Regions from separate parts of the Homo sapiens genome. Here regions 1 and 3 are each linked to region 2. Evidence: fine-mapped expression QTL. A gene starts in region 2. Each other region holds a variant in brackets. All regions are shown on one strand. Distances are between the middles of the regions.

Region 1 (5,893 bases), 21 kb before region 2:
TGAACTACTACTGCACTCCAGTCTGAGTGACATAGTAAGACCCTGTCTCAAAAAAAGAAAGCAGTTGTAATTCTGGCTAGAAAATCCCTTAAGAATTTCAAAACTTCTGAGCTGTGGCTTTGATTGCTTCAACTTGGCAAGCACCCACTTGTATTTGACACTCCAGGGTGAAGGTGATGACGTAAAAATGTATTTTTCTAGGCACATGAAAAGAAAAATTATGTTAAAAGAGAAAACAGTATACTCCAAACCTTCAAAATAGTCAAGTAAAAATTTCAGACTTAACTTTATGTTGACTTGATTTTATGTTCTAATGCATACTAGATAAGATTTGAACACAGACGGGCCAGGCGCAGTGGCTCATGCCTGTAATCCCAGCACTTTGGGGAGGCTGAGGCCGGCTGATCATGAGGTCAGGAGTTCAAGACCAGCCTGGCCAACATGGTGAAACCCTGCCTCTAAAAAAAATACAAAAATTAGCTGGGCTCAGTGGTGCACACCTGTAGTCCCAGCTACTCAGGAGGCTGAGGTGGGAGAATCCCTTGAACCTGGGAAGCGGAGGTTGCAGTGAGCCGAGATTGTGCCACTGCACTTCAACCTAGGCGACAGAGTGAGACACCATCTCAAAAAGAAAAAAAAAGAAAGAAAAGAAAAAAAAAAGGATTGAACACAGAAAGACTAGAGTAGACAAGAATCACTTCTCCATTCTTGGTTATATTTCCTTATCTTTATACACTACTGAAATCAGTTTGTTTCAAGTATTTTACCTGGGATTCTTGCATCTACATGAAATTGGCCTGCAGTCTGCCTTTCTTACACTTTTTTGGTCAGTTTATGGTGTCAAGATTATAACTCCATTAAATGAATTGGAAAGTGTTGCCTTTTTTCCTGTTCTCCATAAGAATTTGCAAAAGATTGGAATGATCTGTTTGTTAAAAGTTTATAAAGCTGTCTGGCCCTGGTATTTATTGGTGGGAAGACTTTAACTACTATAATTAGACTATTCAGGAATTCTATTTTTTTTTCTTGAGTCAATTTTGAAAAAAAATCTAAGCATTTACCCATTTTACAATTTATTAGCATAAAGTAGCTTAAGGAATTTTCTTATTTCTAAACCTCTCCTGGATATGCATACTTCCTTTTCCGATACTGTTTGTATCTTCTCACTTTCTTTTCCTTGGCCGTTTTACCAGAAGTTTGTCTATTTTATTTTTTTAAAGAACCAGTCTTAGCTTTGTTCATTCTCTCTGCCCTTCTCTTTTATGTTCTGCTTTCTGATGGTTTGTTCTGTTGTTTTCTCATTTCATAAATTGGACATTTAACTCATTCATGTTCAAGGTTTTTTCTATTTTTAGTAAGTATCTGAGTTTATTTGAATTACCTCCTTTGCCTCACCCCATGATTGAGTGTATGCATGTATACAAACATGTATATATACACATTTTTATTGCTTTTCCATTCATATCTTTACATTATGATTTATTTGACCTGTTAATTATTTTACAGTATTTTTAAATGCACAGACTTAAGAGTTTTATAAATGTATTTCCTTTTCAAAAAAATTTTGTAATGTTAATATCACTATTAATAAGACAATTTTATATTTTGTGAATCCTGATAAAATGTGCTGAAGACACAACATTAATTATGTGATATTCCTGCCAAAAATGCATAACATGAACATAGTAGAGAGAAATATCAGAAAAAGATAAAATGAGGAATATCCTACAAAGTTACCAGCCTATACTTCTCAAAAATTTCAAGTTAAAGGAGACTAAAGTGACGTGACAAGTACCTGCAGCACGTGTTTCTGGACTGGATCTTGGTCAAGAAAGCATTTTTTAAACTTTTGTTCTTTCGGACATTTTTGAGACATTCGGTAAAATTTGAGTAAGGTCTGTAAATTATTAATAGCATTATATCAGTGTGACTTCCTGATTTTGATAATAATGTCATGGTTCCTTGAAAAA[G/A]TCCTTGTTTTTTAGGAAATAGACACTGGAGCGTTTAGGGTTAACGGAATATTGATATGCAACTGAATCACAAAAGGTTTAGGAAAAATTATAGAGAGAGAAAATGGTAGAGTAAATGGGGTCAGATGTTAACCTTTGGAAAATCTATGTGGAGGTATATGGATACTTTGTACTGTTTTGCAGATTTACTGTAAATCTGGAATCATTTCAGAATAGAAAGTTTAAAAATAGCTTTTGTTCTAACTAATTGCATGTGGTCAAAGAACATGCGAGTATGATAAAGCCTGGGCAAATTTTTATAGCCTTTCTCTGCCTCAGCTTTACCATCTGAAAAATGGAAATAATAGCACCTATGTCATATATTGTTTGAGAGGAAGTTAAGACACTTAAAGTACTGAGAACTCATCCAGGCACAAGTATATAAATATATGTTGTAGTAGGCTGAATAATGGCCCCCAAGACATCAGGTCCTAATCCATGAACCCTATGTTACCTTACGTGGAAATGAGGTGTTTGCAGATGTGATTAAATTGGAGATCTTGAGATGGGGAGATTTTCTTGGATTATCTAGGTAGGTCCTAAATGCAATCACAAGTGTCTTTAATCAGAGGCAGGGAGATTGCAGACAGAAGAGGAGAAGGCAGTGTGATCATGAAGGTGAGGACTGGAGTGATGCAGCCACAAACCAAGGAATATCAGTAGCCACAAAAAAAAAAAAAAAAAAAAAAAAAAAAAAAGGAAGGGTCAAGGAACAGATTCTCTCCTAGAAATTCTGGAGGATGAAGCATCCCACCAACAATTTGATTTTGGTGTAGTAACACTCATTTTGGACTTCTGGTCTCCAGGGAACTGTGAGAATAAATTTCTGTTGTTTTAAACCACTGAGTTTGTGATAAATTTGTTCCAGCAGCCCCAGGAAACACAAATGTAAATTGTATTACCTATTAGAGGTTTTGTTTGTTTGTTTAGTGTCAGGGTCTCTCTCTGTTGCCCAGACTGGAGTGCAGTGGCGTGACCATGGCTCACTGCAGCCTCAAACTCCTGGGCTCTTACAAGTGATCCTCCCTCTTCAGCCTCCTGAATAGCTAGGACTATAGGCACTGGCTTTATAATTTTTATTTTTAAAGATGGGGGTCTCAGTATGTTGCCCAGGCTGGTCTTGAACACCTGGCCTCCTGCAATCCTGCCTCAGCCTCCCAAGTAGCTAGGATTCTAGGCATGAGTCATCACACCTAGCTAGAAAATTTTTGAGACTTGTTTTACGTCCAGGTGTGGCCACTTTTTTTTCCTTTTTTTTTTTTTTTTGAGACACGGTCTTGCTCTGTCGCCAGGCTGGAGTGCAGTGGCACGATCTCAGCTCACTGCAACCTCCGCCTCCCGGGTTCAAGCGATTCTCCTGCCTCAGCCTCCCGAGTAGCTGGGATTACAGGCGTCCGCCACTACTCCCAGCTAATTTTTTATATTTTTAGTAGAGACGGGGTTTCACCATGTTGGCCAGGCTGGTTTCAAACTCCTGACCTCGTGATTCGCCCGCCTCGGCCTCCCAAAGTGCTGGGAGTACAGGCGTGAACCACCGCACCCAGCCACAGTATGGCCAGTTTTTTAAGTGTTTCACATGTGCTTCCTAATTATGTTTCCTTTTTTTTTTTGGAAACTGGTCTCACTGTGTCCCCTAGGCATGTACGATGGCATGATCTTGGCTCACTGCAGCCTCAACATCCTGGGCTTAAGCAGTCCTCCCACCTCAGCCTCCTGAGTAGCTGGGTATGTTGCCCAAGCTGGTCTGGAACTCCTGGGCTTAAATGATCCTCCGGCCTTGGCCTCCCGAAGTGTTGGGATTACAGGCGTAAGCCAAGGCACCTGGCCTCTGATTGTTTTCTACATATGTGGCACTGCTTGTTAATTGTGTTGTTCAAATCTTTCATATCTTTACTAACTTTTGTCTGACCTATTAATAATTGATAAAGGTATTTTGAATTCTCCTACTGTAATGGTAGATTTGACAATTTCCCCTCTTTTATCAGTTTTAACTTTATACATTCTATTGAGTGAATAAAGTGTGGAATTCTTGTGTTGTCCTGGTGAGTTGAACTCTTCTTGTTATGTAGTGACTTCCTTATTGCTAATGCTTTTTGCCTTAGCAAATAAAAATCTGTTTTCTGTTATCTCAATATAGCTTTGGTTGGTATTTAGTGTATATCTTTAAATCCTTTTACCTCCTACGTGTTGATGGTTTAGTTTTGTCTCTTGTAAGTCAAATAAATCTGGATTTTGGCTTTTCATTTGGCCATCTCTACCCTTTAGTAGACAACTTTATTCCATTTACATTTATTATAATTCTTAAAACATGAAGACTTCTATCATGTTATTTTGTACTATTTGTTTCTCTTTTATGCGTTTTTTCCATTACTTATTGATTGGCTGTTTGGTTTTATTATTGTTATTATTCCATTTCTCCCTCTGTACTAGGTTTAAAGTTTTACATTCTATTTATATTTTTCTTGTGTTTACTCCTGAACTTTTTCAATGCATACTCAATACAATCTAAAGTTATCTGGTATCATAACCCGTTCTTTACTTATAATGGACTTTGGAACATCATAAGTCTGATCAACCCCTTCCCTACTTACATGCTATTGTAGGCCAATATTCTAACCTCTGATTTTATTATTATTATTACTATTATTATTATTATTATTATTATTATTATTATTTTGAGATGGAGTCTCGCTCTGTCACCGAGGCTGGAGTGCAGTGGCGCAATCTCGGCTCACTGCAACCTCCACCTCCCGGGTTCAAGCGATTCTGCTGCCTCAGCCTCCCGAGTAGCTGGGATTACAGATGTGTGCCACCATGCTGGGCTTTGTTGTACTTTTAGTAGAGACGGGGTTTTGCCATGTTGGCCAGGCTGGTCTCAAACTCCTGACCTCAGGTGATCCGCCCGCCTCACCTGCCTGTAATCCTGCCTCCCAAGTGCTGGGATTACAGGCGTGAGCCACCGTGCCCAGCCTAACCTCTGATTTTTAGAACCCCATAAGTTAGACATTTTTATTATCTTATACACACATTTTTGTATAAAATAAATTACCACCTGTTTATCAAGTTCCTTGTATACCTTTATTTCCTACATTTGAGATATTCTGGTGCATATCATAATTTGACATTACTTTTTTTCTTTACTGGTGCTGTATAAAATAGTGGTGTGATTTAGCATTGATGGCATCTTAAAGTTAATGAAATACTGGATCATATTACTGACTTCTGGCTTCCATTGTTGTTTTTCAGAAATCAGTATGGTGCCTTTTGTTGTAGGTGATATATCTCTGGCCTCTTTGGCAATACCTTTTGACTTGGTGTTCCTCAGTTTCATGCCAAGGTGTCTAAGTGTGGAACTCTTTATTTATTCTACCTGGTTTACAGTATGCTTCCTGTATCTATGAATTCATGCCTTTTGTCATTTCTGAAAATTTATCAGGCATTATCTCATTGTATCTATCTGAGACTCAAGTTACAAGTGCCAAGTCTTCATTCTGTTTTTCTGTTTGTTTGTTTGTTTTGAGACAGTGTCTTACTCTGTCACCCAGGCTGGAGTGCAGTGGCGCAATCTTGGCTCACTGCAACCTCCGCCTCCTGGGTTCAAGCGATTCTCCTGCCTCAGCCTCCCAAGTGCTGGGACAACAAGCGCCCACCACCATGCCTGCCTAATTTTTGTATTTTTTTTAGTAGAGGTGGGGTTTCACCATGTTGGCCAGGCTGGTCTCAAACTCCTGACCTCAAATGATCCACCCACCTCGGCCTCCAAAATCATGCTGGGATTACAGGCGTCAGCCACCGAGCCTGGCCCATTCCCTTTTAATCTCACATTTATACTTTCCACCCTTCTCTCCCTGAGCTGCATGCTGCATCATTTCTTCACATCTATA
Region 2 (6,794 bases):
AATGGCATGAATCCAGGAGGCGGAGCTGGTAGTGAGCCGAGACCACGCCACTGCTCTCAGCTTGGGTGATAGAGCGAGACTCTGTCTCAAAAAAAAGACTTGGAGGAAAATTTACAGTATATACTTGTGACAATGGTGCAGGGTCCTTCCTCCAAGAGATGTGGCTTCCCTGTCAATCAAGAGGTTTGGGGTCGTGATATGACTTGTCTGGAAACTAGGTGAGAGATATGTCTATCCAGTGTGGCCAGGTAAGGTTTTTGGCTACTAGACATAGACTTTTTTTCTGTTAGATAGATCAAACAATTCTCTAGTAGGCTGCCCATCTGTTTCATTCCTAGGGACACCATGGCCACTACCAAAGATCCTTATAGACCAACATATTCTGATTACTGGTATGTCCTGGCTTCTGTATTGGATCAATGTCCTTACCTTTAATAATTAAGTGCTGCCACTTGGCCTCATCATCTCCAGTAAAACCAGGGGACCCAACTCAATGGTGGCATCTTCCATGATCACACCTGGCCTGCAAAGGAGAGCAACCACAGAGCTTTCCAAGGATGCAAGTGCTCCCTTGTCTAAAGTATTTCTCAATGCTTTAGAAAAAGGAGCATCTTCTGGATCTTGTTGTAGGATATAGTTTTTGTGTTTGTGTCTATTGCACGTGGGTCAGGGTCACATTTGATAAATTCAGTCCAACATTTCTACCCTTCTCAGTCTTTGGGTTCCCGCCTCTACATCGTGCCTTGGCATCTCAGTAGGATTAACCATAGACTACTGTTGAGTTAAATCTTCAATAAATCCACCAAATAAGCTGTTAGAGTCATTTCCAGTTGCATGAGTCAACACAATGTCTGTAAATGCACTCTAGTAAATGCCTCCATATAATTGGCCTGATATAGTACTATATACTGCCCTCCTTAGTTTAAAACAGTTAGAATCCACTTCCACACATTCCATACATTAGCAAAGTACGTGTAATTAGTATAGTTCTTTCAGCGTGCAAGCTGTTTTATCCTAGATCATAGTGTGTAGCAGCCTACCTGGAGCATTAATGAGGTTTGAACCTAGTTAGGGTCTAGTGGCAATGAGGCAGAAGAAGGGGAAGTAAATTCTGCTGGGTCTTGTAGAGAATGAGCTTCCCTTTTGAAGTCATCTGCCCCAGCTGAGGGCTTAGCAGTGTCTTCAAGCAAAGAATGACTAGTCTCCTCAGACTTAGGAGGACAAGCTACTTCCACTGCCAAGGAAGGCTCAGGGTGCCATGGGTGTTCAAGACTGTCAGTTATCTGGGTCTAAGCAGAGTGCTTATTTCAAATTTTGGGATTCCATTCCTTCCCAATTGATGCCTTAACTTTCAGAAGAGAAACTAACCTGGTAATTCAGCCCACAGGGAGTAGTCAAACACTGTGGGCCACTGTGCACTAAAGAGCCAGCTGAGAGGAGCACACTGGAACCAGAAAAAAGAGCCCCTTCCTCCTCTAAAGTTCCTCCAGTACCCTCCACTGATGAAGCTCACTGTCCATTGAACCAAAAGGCAAGGGAGAAACCTTCCAATATTGCAAACAGGGTAGTGAAGGGTGGGTTTGGAATGGAGACTCAATAGGTTGATAATTGGCAACACACTTCGCCTTCATTCCTTCTCCCATGGTCTCTACCACCACCTCCTGATAAAAACTCAAACACTTCAAATAGAAATAAGAAAGTCAAGACCCTAATGAGGATGCCAAGACCATTAAGAACATCTAATACTATATACTCGCATCGTCTAGGGTAACCAACCATCTCAGTTTGCCCAGGACTGTCCTGGCTTTAGCACTTAAAGTCCTGTGTCTTGGGAAACTCCTCAGGCCCATACAAACCAGAACAATTTGTCATCCTACATATGTCCTAGAGGTTTTCAAAATTTTTGTGCACCAGAATCACTTGGGTGCTTGTTAAAAACGCAGGTGATTCTGTTAAACAAAAAAAAAGCAGTAATTTCAGATGCAAGTAAATCATGGATTGATCTTTGAGAAATACACTACGTAGAGGCTGAAGAGGTGTCAATCACTACTTTTAGGAACTCCTCAATCCAGACTTCTTTGTTCCTGTTCCAAAACTATAATCATTGAAAAGAAAGAAATAACATATTTTAGAAGATACAGCCAAAGTTCCTGAGCCAGAAGCAGACATTGACAAATTAGTTGATGGGGGAAAAAAACTGTAGTGTGGCCTTAGCATTTTCTCTCCTTTCAGGTCTAGGATAAATCATTTTTTTCCTTCAGTGTCACAAAGTATAACAAATAATAATGAGTGCTGTGAAAATGGATTTGATAGTAGCAACAATATAGGTACACATTGATGAGGTGTACCTATAATGAGCTTCCTGAAGGTAAACACTCATATCAGGCTTATTTTAAAGATTTCCACAGTGACTATACTTTGGCGGATCTTAGAGAATGACTTGCATAAAACAGTCAATTCAGTGCTACTTTTGCTATTTTCATACTGTAAAGTACATGGTTTAACATGACCATTTTAAAGATGTTTCTCATGAGCTCAAATGGGGTGAGCTCTTTTTCATTTTTTGAGTTTTTGTTGTGTTCCAGGCATTGTGCTATATTCTTTAAATGCATTATCTCACTTAATCCTCCCAAAAAGAGCGATACCCATTTTAAAAAGAGGCAGAGTACTTGCCCTAGATTATACAACTAGTAAGTGGTGGTGTCTGGGCCAAAATGTAGGTCTGTTCACTCAAGCAAATTTGCTTAGCACTGGAGAGAGCCAAGGTGAATTAAGGCGTGGTCCTACGCCCTGCTGTAAATGCTGTGTTCGGAGGTGTGCACAGGCTGCAATAGGAACACAAAGGAGGCTCATTTCAGGCTCTCCGTGGTTTTTAGGATAAAATGCAAATCCTTTTGCCTAACACATTATAACCAGGTCCCCCAAACTCCTCTCCCTTTATCTAGTCCCACAGGGACCCGGTCACTCTTTCTGCCACAAAGATGCCGATGCTTGGACATCTCCAGTTTCGAGGAACTCACGTAGGAGACACGCCTTCACTTCCACCTTTGCCAAACCCCGACCCCTTCACACCGCTCCCCTGCACTCTCAATCCCTGTCCGCTGCAACACATATCCCCTCATCAGCACCTTCGGTGATTAGGCCCTCCAGGCGCGGGGGATGTGGGACTACCCGGACTGAGGACTGCGCACCGGAAGTAGTGGCGGCGCTGCGTAACGTCGAGAGGAAGTGCCTGATGCCGCGGCCTGTGATTGGGAGTTGCTGGAGTCGGTGCTTCACTCTTAAGGTTCCGATCACAGACTGCGGAGTGGGTCAGGGGCTGCGAGGGCTGCCCCAAGTCCTACCGGGTTTGCACGGGCGCGCCCGGCTCCGCCCGCAAGTGCGCCTTCCTGACTTACTGCTGGGTGCGCGGGGCTGGGGGTGCGAGTACCACCCCTGAAGTCTCTTCCTGGGCGACCTCCGGGGCCTCATTCTAGGCCTCCTTAAAGAGAAGGATCTAAATTAGGAAAAGGAAGTGCCCTTATCCACGACCAAGCTCTTCCACCTGCGGAGCTCGCTTAGTCTGCACCTCAACCGTGCGGAAAGTGACTGCCCTGTTTACTGAGGAAAAACTGGGGCTCAGAAAGGTGAAGTCATTTGCCATGGGCCATGCAGCTGGGAAGTGACAGATCTGGATTCAAAGCGAGTTCTGGCTGGCGCCAGAGTCCTTGTATTTTACAGCACTGGTTCTCAAGCTTTATGTGCATTAAGAATTCCTGGGTTGAGGGTGGCGTTAGTTAACAAATTCTGGGACTCTACAAATTGAGTAGATCTGGGATGGGGCTCTGGAATCTATTTTCAACAATTGTTCCCTGGCAAATAACATATGGCTCCCCAGTGAATGGAGCAAGAAGGTGAGCAAGTCGTATCCTCTGCGGGGACTGTAGGTAATTGTGTTACGCTTTTAGGGCCTCAATTGAGAGAACATGTCAAACGGGAGCTCCTGGGATTGGAGAATTGGTATTTGATTGTCATTAACTCTTCTGGGCAGATGGCAGCCTCTGCGTCTCTCCACCTATTAAATGAAATGAATTACATGCTTATCATCTGGGGGAACTTGTTAAACACACAGATTCCTGGGCCTGGCTCAGCTCTACTGAATCAGAAGAGGTGGGAGATGGGACCTGGGAATCTATAGTCTAAGCAAGCTATTAATATAAAACGAGCTTTTACCTTTGAGAACTTGAGGTGTGAAGCTTTCTTAGGTAGAAGCATAAAGAAATAGATTACAGATGTGGAACATGTGGCTTGAATTTCCTTGTTGTTTTGGTAGCTGTACGTGCTTCTGCATTTGCTGTAGGCTAAGCTTTTACTGGTACAACTGTCAAATTAGTATTATTAGCCATTATGAGGTGGATTTATCCGTTAGCTGGAGACAGGAGTTTAATATAAGTTGAATGTTAATCTGTCTGTTGTTGATTTCCTGAGTGGCTTTGGGTGCATCATTGAACTTTACCGTCCACATACATACCTGCATTGTGTCAAATCTTACACTGCTTGTTATAAAGACAAATACCTGTATCCATCCTAAATCAGATTTTCTGAAGGTGGGCCATAGGTATTTTGAACAAACTTCCAGGGAAGTTTGATGCAGCCAGTGATAATGGAATATATGCTTGGAAACAGTCTTAGCCGATTTCTCAATGTCCATGTAGGTGAAAATGGGAATAGTACAGTTTCCTTATATTCTACTCTTGGGGACTATTAAGAGGAATGTGGTTTATAATAGGTCCTAATTTTAGAATTTCTTAAAATGCACTTTCTTGTGAAAGAAACAAAAGTACTATGGTAAGATTACAAAAGGTGAATGCTAAAGCCAGCAGCCCCAAATGACTAGGCTTCTTGAATGAAATGTTGTGATGACATAAACTGATTTTACATGGAAGCTCTATTGCCATTGAGAGTCTTCTGCCTGAAATTAATTATGCCTTAGGAGTAATTGTTCACAATCCTAACTAAAAGCACTGTTTTGTTTTGTTTTAATAAACAGATACCATGGAGTAGTTTGAAACAGGAACAAAATCTTCTGAAAGCTCGGAGCAGAAGCCTTTTTGGTCAACATGGAGGAAAAAAGACGGCGAGCCCGAGTTCAGGGAGCCTGGGCTGCCCCTGTTAAAAGCCAGGCCATTGCTCAGCCAGGCAAGAATCTGTAGGGATTTTGTGTGTGTGTGGATATGGACAACTCTCATTCTCTTTTATTTATATCCTTTTGGTTTATAATGGACTTCCATTTCAATTGACGTCAAGGAATTGTTTAAAATGTGGCTGATATTTTGTCCGATTTTGTTGATGGTGAGCTAAGGGTGGGTCTTTAATGTTCCTCATATTTAGTCCACACCCTCAAACCTTTCAGTATCTTCTGTTGACTTTACCAGTTAGTTTCTACATGTCATAGAGATCATCTCCAAGTGGGCTTTATTGGCCCTTGCTCAGTAGAAGGTGCTGAGAACAGACTTTCCCCTGGTTTGAGGCTGTCCCCTCTCTTGCTTCAGCTACCACTGCTAAGAGCCATCTCCACCAGAAGCCTGGCCAGACCTGGAAGAACAAAGAGCATCATCTCTCTGACAGAGAGTTTGTGTTCAAAGAACCTCAGCAGGTAAATTCATGGTTTTTTCTTCAATAGTGATAAAAATTTGCTTAGAAAAGTGATATTCACACAGTAGACACTCAAATAAATAATGACTGAATAAATTCACTAATAGCAGAGCAGAAGAACTATAATAATAATGAAATGAGAAATATTTCAGTTCCTTTCTATGTCTGGGGATTCTTCGTAGTCTGCTCCCAGTTTATGGTCACATGTTATTCCCGTATTTTTGGCAAGGAGGTTACACCATAATGAGAGCTTGCTTGCATTGGTTATTTGAGCTCCAGCAGTCCTAAAACTGTGCTGTCTTCAGTGCTATTGCACTTCACCATCTTTGGAATTGGATTAAAATTTCAGTTTTTACAATAAAATGCCTGATTTTTAGCCCTTTTTTCCCATGAGGAAAAATGTAGGAAACAGTGAAGATTTACTTTTTAATAATGTGGAAAAGTTAAAAAGTTGGGTTTCTTGCCATAGTAACAACCCTATAAATAATTATTAAAACTCCTTATTTTATAGCATATTTTCTATTTTAAAAAATCTTGTCAAGATTTTTCCAGAGCTGCTGGCTGCTAGGAAAATTTATTCTATTAATAATTGTATCTTCTTTTACTGTCTACTAGCAAATGTGAAGTAGTTTTAAGAAGAGTGGAGACAAGGGTCTCTAGTGGGTTAGTGAGAAGTTGGAATAGAAAAGAGATAGTTTTTAACTTTATTTTGACCAGAAATGGGAAGATATGGTAAGTCAGTATCCTTGAGGATTAAGAACATCCCAGAAGTAAGATCCGCCTATTTCCTTGCAGGTAGTACGTAGAGCTCCTGAGCCACGAGTGATTGAGTAAGTAATTTGCTGTCTTCCTGTAATTGTTGCCCACAGTGAAATGAAGAGCCTGGAATCTTTCCTCACTGTTTTTTCTATCTGGAAGAGAATGGCCCAATAAGTGTCTTAACTGTAGTCTGGGATATTCCCATCTCAAATGTCTTTAAACTTGATCTTTTGAGAAGACTTTCTGAATTTGCTGATAGTATTGAAAATGCAACAAGATATCCATATGTTAAACTTTGACTTGTGTAGATTTCCTGGCCCTATTTCACCGATATCTGTAGACAGTAAGCTAAACCTCTCAGGCAAAGACAGAGAGGGATTTTTCCTGAGTCATTGAAGCAT
Region 3 (6,794 bases), 32 kb after region 2:
GTGAAACTTGCCCATGTATTACCTGCGTTTTCTTCCTCTGAAATACTGTCTTGTTTTAGAATTCCCAAACTTTTCTCATTGCTATTTTTCTGCCTCCTTTAAGGCCTTTTCTTTTACATTCAACCCCTTAAATATAGACGTTCAAGATTTCTTTGATTCTGTTATTGTTCTCTACATTATTTTTTAGGAGATTATGAACTGGCAGTAGATTGTAAATACCATATGGGCAAGGTCCCTTTCTGTCTTATTTATCATTACATTCTTAGCATTTAGTTCTACATATGTTGATTGAATAAGCAAATAAATAGGATCTCATTAGTTCTTATAGCTTTAACCATTCCTTCTTTGGTGGGGTGACTTCTGAATCTCCTATCTCCAGCTTTGACTTTCATCTGAAGTTCCAGTCATCACTTTCCACATGTTCACGAGACATTTCCACTTAATAACAGCACATGTGGCTTCCACCCTGTAATGATAAAATCAGATTCGTATTGTTCTTTCAGAAAAACTCCACACTTGCTGGTAAGTTCATTTATGTTCATGTTAACCTAACCATTCTCTTGGTCAGGTTAACACCGTAAGTTATTTTCAGCTCTTCCTTGTTCCTTTGTTTCTCATATATTATCAAGTCCCAAGTCATCTGAATTCTTTCTTGAACTATCTAAAGAACCCATCTCTCTTACAGTGACCATCTTTATCCCAGGCACTTTTTAACCCATGCCTACAGTACTAAAATGACTTTTTTTTTCACCCTGATGTCCTTAATTCCAATCTTTGCTCCCTCTCTTCTGTCCATTACCCAGATGTCAGGTATTATTTCCAGGAACAGTTCTTTCCTGCCTCTCTCTCACTGTCTTCTCTCATTCTCCCCTCTCCAAATATTAATTAAACCCCTACTATGTGTCAGGTATTATACTATGCTCAGCTCTGGGGATATAGCAGTGAACATGACAAACATAGTCCCTGCCCTTATGGGGGTTACAGGAGCTAGACTATAATCAAATAAACAGAGAGAAATAGTTACAACTCATGGTTAGAGCTCTGAATTTTTATTTTAGAAGATCACTGTGGCTGCTGTGTGAAGAATAATTTGGGAAGAGGCAAGAGTAGGAGACTAAAAGAGTAGGTGGTTGTAGTCATCGCAGTGGGAGACTGCTAGCTTGGACTAAGGTGGCATTGGGGATGAAGAGAAGTTAATGGGTTTGAGGTATATTTCTGAGGATGAATCAACAGAACTTGCCAGTAATATGTTAGATGTGGGGGTAAGGATCCAGACTCCCAGGTGTCTGACTTGAGCAGTGGTGAGTGGAGTTGCTGTTTACTCAGGTGGAAGAGAAGCTGGGATTTCTGCATTTGATTTTGTCCCTGCTGGAGGAGTTCCTTCTTCTACGTGCAAAATCTGAGGTGCCTGAGGCTTCCAAATGTTAAGTAGGCAGTCGACTGTGTAAGTCTGGAGTTCAGACAACAGGCCTGGCTGGAGATGTCATTTGGGAATTTTGGAATAACCGCAATAGTAAAACGCTAATAATAAATAACAAGTGTATAGTGCTGACTGTGCCTGGCTCTGCTCTAACTTCTTTATTGAATTCTCTGATAATTTTATATAGTTGATGCCATTATTATTTCCATTGTACAGATGAGATGACTGAGACTCAGTGTTAAATTACTTGCCCAAGATGGCTTAGACAACTATTTGTTGAATGTGGAATCGAATTAAAACTAATAATATAGACCATATGTAAAACTGTGGAATTGTACATTATCATTCAGAGAAAGAGAATAAAAAAGGGAGCGGCCAGGCGCCGTGGCTCATGCCTGTAATCCCAGCACTTTGGGAGGCTGAGGTGGGCGGATCACAAGGTCGGGAGTTCGAGACCAGCCTGACCAACATGGTGAAACCCCGTCTCTACTAAAAATACAAAAAAAATAGGCAGGCGTGGTGGTGCGCGCCTGTAATGCCAGCTACTTAGGAGGCTGAGGCAGAAGAATCGCTTGAACCTGGGAGGCAGAGGTTGCAGTGAGTCGAGATCGCACCACTGCACTCCAGCCTGGGCCACAGAGTGAGACTCCTTCTCAAAACAAACAAACAAACAAAAAACAAGAAGGGAGCATAGAGCCTCAAAGGTTGAGCTCACTGCTTTCATCACTTTGTTTTCCACCTGAAAAATCTTAATTTGCTTCTGTTGGAACAAAGGATAAAATAGAAACTCCTTACCCAGATTGCCAAATCCATACATGATCTTAGCCCAGGGAGATCCATGGACTCTCACTGTTCCCGTATGGTTGCTCCATTCTACTAAGTTATCTCTTTGCTTTCCCCGAGGCTTGCTCTCCAACTTCTTAACTTAAAAGGGCCCCCTATAGCGTGAAGGCTTTCCTGATGCCTCCAGTGCAGAAATTAATAATAGTTACTGTGTGCCAGGTGCTTCCTGTGAACCTGTAAAACAAGAAACAGGTAGCAGGCTTCTACCTTGTCCTTTCTGCTCATTTGTGTTTTGTTTTTATAAGTGTCTTCTTAGTACAGAGATGGAGGTTTTTCTATTTTGCTCATCTAAGGAATCAGAGATGATGTGGAAAACCAACTGCCTCACTGTTATCTGAGATCAGTAATTTGGAAGCATATTTTGCTTTGAATGACTTTTTCTGATTGAGTTAGGGGTGAGATGAAGAATGTGATAATTTTTTAAAATCATGGCATTTATTTTTTAAAATCTTAATATATTAAACAATACAGTTTCAGATACAAAAAAAATTACTGCAATAAAACAGTTGAGGTGTATTTCCATTGTGCTTCCCTTCCTTATCAGGAAAGTACATTGTCCACTGAGAGACAGGATGGATGGCCTCTCCCAGCTCTACACAAAGCACAAGCCTACTGGCTCTCCTGGGCCTTGGTTAATACATGGAACAGGCTATGTTTTCTAAAATGTTGTAGCAACACTCATAAGTCAACCATGGTTCAAAAAGTCAACCATGGTTCAAATCACATATTTA[C/T]ATATTGATCAATTCTTTATGATAGACAGACATAAATGAGATACAGTAAATAATTTCCAGTTGTTAAAAAAAAAAAAAAAACAAGTACAGGCGACAAACTTGGTCATGGTACACAAATATACTTCATGTGTACAGACAGCTTCATTCAGGTCTAATTTTTTTTTAATTTTTGTTTTAGGTTAGGTATATTTGCAGGTTTGTTATATAGGTAACTTGTCTGTCACGGGGGTTTGGTATACAGATTATTTCATCACCCGGCTAATAAGCATAGTACCCGATAGGTAGTTTTTCCGTCCTCACCCCCGTCCCGTCCTCCACCCTCCATTATTCAGGTATAATTTTAATTTGAAAGACCTAGATATACTATTATTTAAGTGATAATGGCCTCTAAGATTTATTCAGATTACTATCAAATAATAAATTAAACAAATCCACTATAATTTAAAACTCTGTCCATTGCTTGAAACCTTGGAGGAGCCTATGCTACAATCAGTTGCTAACTAAAAGCAATTGTACGTGTATTTGATATTTCCCCACAGTTTCTACCTCTAGATTTAATTCAGTAAAGGAAGATGATATTTGAAGATGAAGTAGCACTTGTGTCCTGAGCATCTCTCAGGCACTACTGCATGGAATGGCAAAGGGGATGCAAGAAGCACATCAGATGACAACGGTCTTAGACGCTTACAAGTCTGCTAAGGTGACTGACAAGGGAATCAAAGAAGGCAGTCATGTCATGGACCTATCAGCAGCATAGCTGGGCAACCCTGGAGCTGAATCTGGCCCTCAGACTTGTTTAAATTGCCCAGTGTTTTTAAAGACACTGAATTAATTGCGAAAATTTATAACTCAGGAAATTTCACATAAAAATCCCACTTGTCAGCTTCCCTGGAAAACCCAGAAGAGGGGGCAGCACTGGGGGAACAGTGATCTGAAATGGCTCATTGGCAGAGCAGCCACCACCTTTCTGCAGGCCCCTGGTTCTGCATGGGTCCCTCTCCTCCCTGTGCTGCACCCAGCCCACACCTCTCACTTATGCTACTTGCTGGTGTTTGTGACCCCTACAGTATAGTCAGGGTGCCATATAATCAGGACAGGAAATATTAGGATTTCAGAAGGAATAGAGCTTACCTTGGAGAGCAGAGTATAGTGGAAAGAATAGGGCTTTAGAGCCGGGCCAATCTACATTCAAATGCTAGCCTGCCCTCCTGCTAGCTTTTGCCTTAGAGAAATATTTTCCCTCCAGCTCCCTTTGCTTATGATAAAATGGATAATATCACCTTCCTTGCCTCCCTTACAAGGTTGTAGTGAGGATTAGCAATAACGGATATAGAGTGCCTGATGTGCCTGGCACCTGAGCACATGCCATCGTAGATCTTGTGGAAGAAGTCTGGCAGGATGCTTTGGTTTAAGTACCTGGAAACTGTTATAAAAAGAAGCATGGAAAAAAAAGAATAACCCAACCACCACCAAAAAACAAACTCCATGTAGATTAAAGAGTTAAATCTAAAAAATGTAAACTCTTAAAAAAAAAACTAAAAGGAAATACAGTTGTATATTTAACTTTCCTCAGGATGGGAAAAGACTTTCTAAGCATAAAAATCATGAAGACGAGCCAAAGAAAGGTCAGTAGAGTTGACTCTAAAATTTTTGAGCTATTCCATGTTAAATACCATAAGTACAGTTAAAAGGCAAATAGCAAATGAGAAAAGCATTTGCAAAAAGTATGACAAACAAATGCCTTAATATCTGTGGTTGTAGATCAATAAGAAAACAGTGTTAACACCCCCATAGAACAATGGACAAAGGACATGAACAGAGAGTGTTCACAGCAGAAGAAACACAAACAGCAAACAGAATGAAAAAAAAAAAGTTGAACTTGGGCTGGGTGTGGTGGCTCACACCTGTAATCCCAGCACTTTGGGAGGCCAAGGCAGGTGGATCACTTGAGCCCAGGAGTTCAAGACCAGCCTGGCCAACATGGTGAAACCCTATCTCTACTAAAAATAAAAAAAAATTAGCCAGGCATGGTGGCAGGCACCTGTAATCCCAGCTACTCGGGAGGCTGAGGCACAAGAATCGCTTGAACCCAGGAGGTGGAGGTTGCAGTGAGCCGAGATCACACCACTGCACTCCAGCCTGGGTGACAGAGTGAGACTCTGTCTCAAAAAAAGAAAAAAAAAAAAAAAAGAACTTGGCTTGTAATCCAAGATCTCTAAGTTTGAATGAGTTGTCATTTCTCCCCTAATTGTTTTTCGTTACTGTCAGTTGATAATGTTCAGCCAGAAGATAGGTACTGTCATGTTTTCCTGGTGAGATTATAGATTGCTGCAGCCTTCTCAAGAAAGCAGTTTGGTAATATAAATCAAGTGCCTTAAAGTTCATACACTTGGCTCCAGTAATTCCATTTTTTAAGAATATATCCTAGAAATATATGCAGAAATGTTTTGCCCAAAAATCTGCTTGCAGCAGCTTTTTATTTATTTTCCCTCTTTTTAAAAAAAAATACTGGTGTATGAAAATCAATCTCCAACCATGTGCTCCTTACTGCTCCATCCTTAGTACTAGCATAATGCCTGATATATACAGGTGGTCAAAAGGTATTTGTGAGTTTAAAGGAAGGATATGTTCATACAAAGGAATATTCTATAACCATATTTTTGAAATGTATATTTAAAGATATAGAAAAATGCTCAATAAAATATTAAAAATGGAGTACACACGATTGTATATCTGGAAGACTCTGTGTGTATGTTGTATAAACTCTGGATGATAGGATTACAGGCGATTTTCTACATTTTCTGTGTACTCTTCCTCAGTCATTCAGTACATATTTATTCATATGTGTGATAGGCACTGAGAATGTTTCTTAACAGGAAGACCACATAAACTTTCCCTCATGGAGTTTATAAGAGCAGAGGTTGAATAAATAATTACAAGTGCATCATTTACTTTAGTAAACTTATGTTACTTTTTATATTCTAGAAGGAAAACCTGTATGATGATTTTAAAGCATTGATGATTGTTTGTAATTTCTAAGACATTCTTTTAGGACAAGAAAGGGATGATTTTAAGAAAACTCCAAATCTCATACAGTATGAATTACCTTTCCAATGGAAAGAAAAATGTTTAGGTTTCCCATCTGTTGGATGGTTAATAATGACATAACAGTAAATACATCCAGATTTTTTCACCCCAAATAGCATTTTCTTAAAGGAAACTGAATAGGATATGTTGGTGAGGTGGAGGTAAGAGTTGTGAGAAGCTTTAGAAAAGCATAATTAAGCCTTCAAATGAACTGGCTGCGGTTGGAGGAATGAGAATGTTGATCAGCATTAATATAAAAATACATGTTTTTCGCTTTTTCCATGTACTCGTAGGGTTTCAAGTATTTGGAAAACCAAGAACATCAATAACAAAACCCACCCTGTAGCTTGAGTGTGACCCTAAAAGCTGCTTTTAACCAGGATGAGTGATGGAAAATTTTATCCTTAGCCCTGGTTTTGGGGGGTGTGTTTTGTTTTGTTTTGAAGAAAACCCTGAGTAAATCAAAAGGGCTACAGAGATGTGTTTGGGTAACTTAACCACGCTTAATGACTAGGAAGGCACTCTTCTAAACAGTCTGACCTGTGTTTCCACTGTTGCTTATCCATTTATCAACTGGAGCCTTTATGCACAGCCATGTGGGTTCCTCTGGCCTTTTATCTGACTCCTAAGTGGAAACAGTCTCCATGCATCTTGCTTCAGTTGAAGGGCATCTTGCTTCAGTTGAAGGGTGGCTCTATGGTCTGTTGCCACTC

What was found. PIP is the estimated chance that this variant, and not a neighbour inherited with it, causes the effect.
Region 1: its variant is the best candidate, but not a certain one, in a credible set for the expression of ALKBH3 in whole blood (TOPMed, PIP 0.66).
Region 3: its variant is the best candidate, but not a certain one, in a credible set for the expression of ALKBH3 in cerebellum (GTEx, PIP 0.82).

The regions. Positions count from the first base shown.
Region 1 is chr11:43,857,081-43,862,973 of GRCh38, forward strand. No RefSeq gene overlaps it. Among named protein-coding and RNA genes, the nearest start is that of ALKBH3, 21 kb to the right of the region's middle. The variant G/A (reference allele first, on the strand shown) is at 1,971.
Region 2 is chr11:43,877,554-43,884,347 of GRCh38, forward strand. It overlaps ALKBH3 (alkB homolog 3, alpha-ketoglutarate dependent dioxygenase), which reads left to right and starts at 3,278. Exons shown (of 10, transcript NM_139178.4): 1 at 3,278-3,626; 2 at 5,030-5,178; 3 at 5,532-5,635; 4 at 6,430-6,464. The coding sequence starts at 5,100. LOC105376644 (a long non-coding RNA gene) reads right to left here and starts at 3,184. Exons shown (of 3, transcript XR_001748200.2): 1 at 3,129-3,184; 2 at 430-523. RefSeq lists an enhancer at 3,064-3,263.
Region 3 is chr11:43,910,048-43,916,841 of GRCh38, forward strand. All of the region lies in intron 8 of ALKBH3 (alkB homolog 3, alpha-ketoglutarate dependent dioxygenase), which reads left to right. ALKBH3-AS1 (ALKBH3 antisense RNA 1) reads right to left here. Exons shown (of 6, transcript NR_038907.1): 4 at 6,622-6,794; 5 at 2,216-2,437; 6 at 1-466. Among named protein-coding and RNA genes, the nearest start is that of ALKBH3-AS1, 7.5 kb to the right of the region's middle. The variant C/T (reference allele first, on the strand shown) is at 2,995.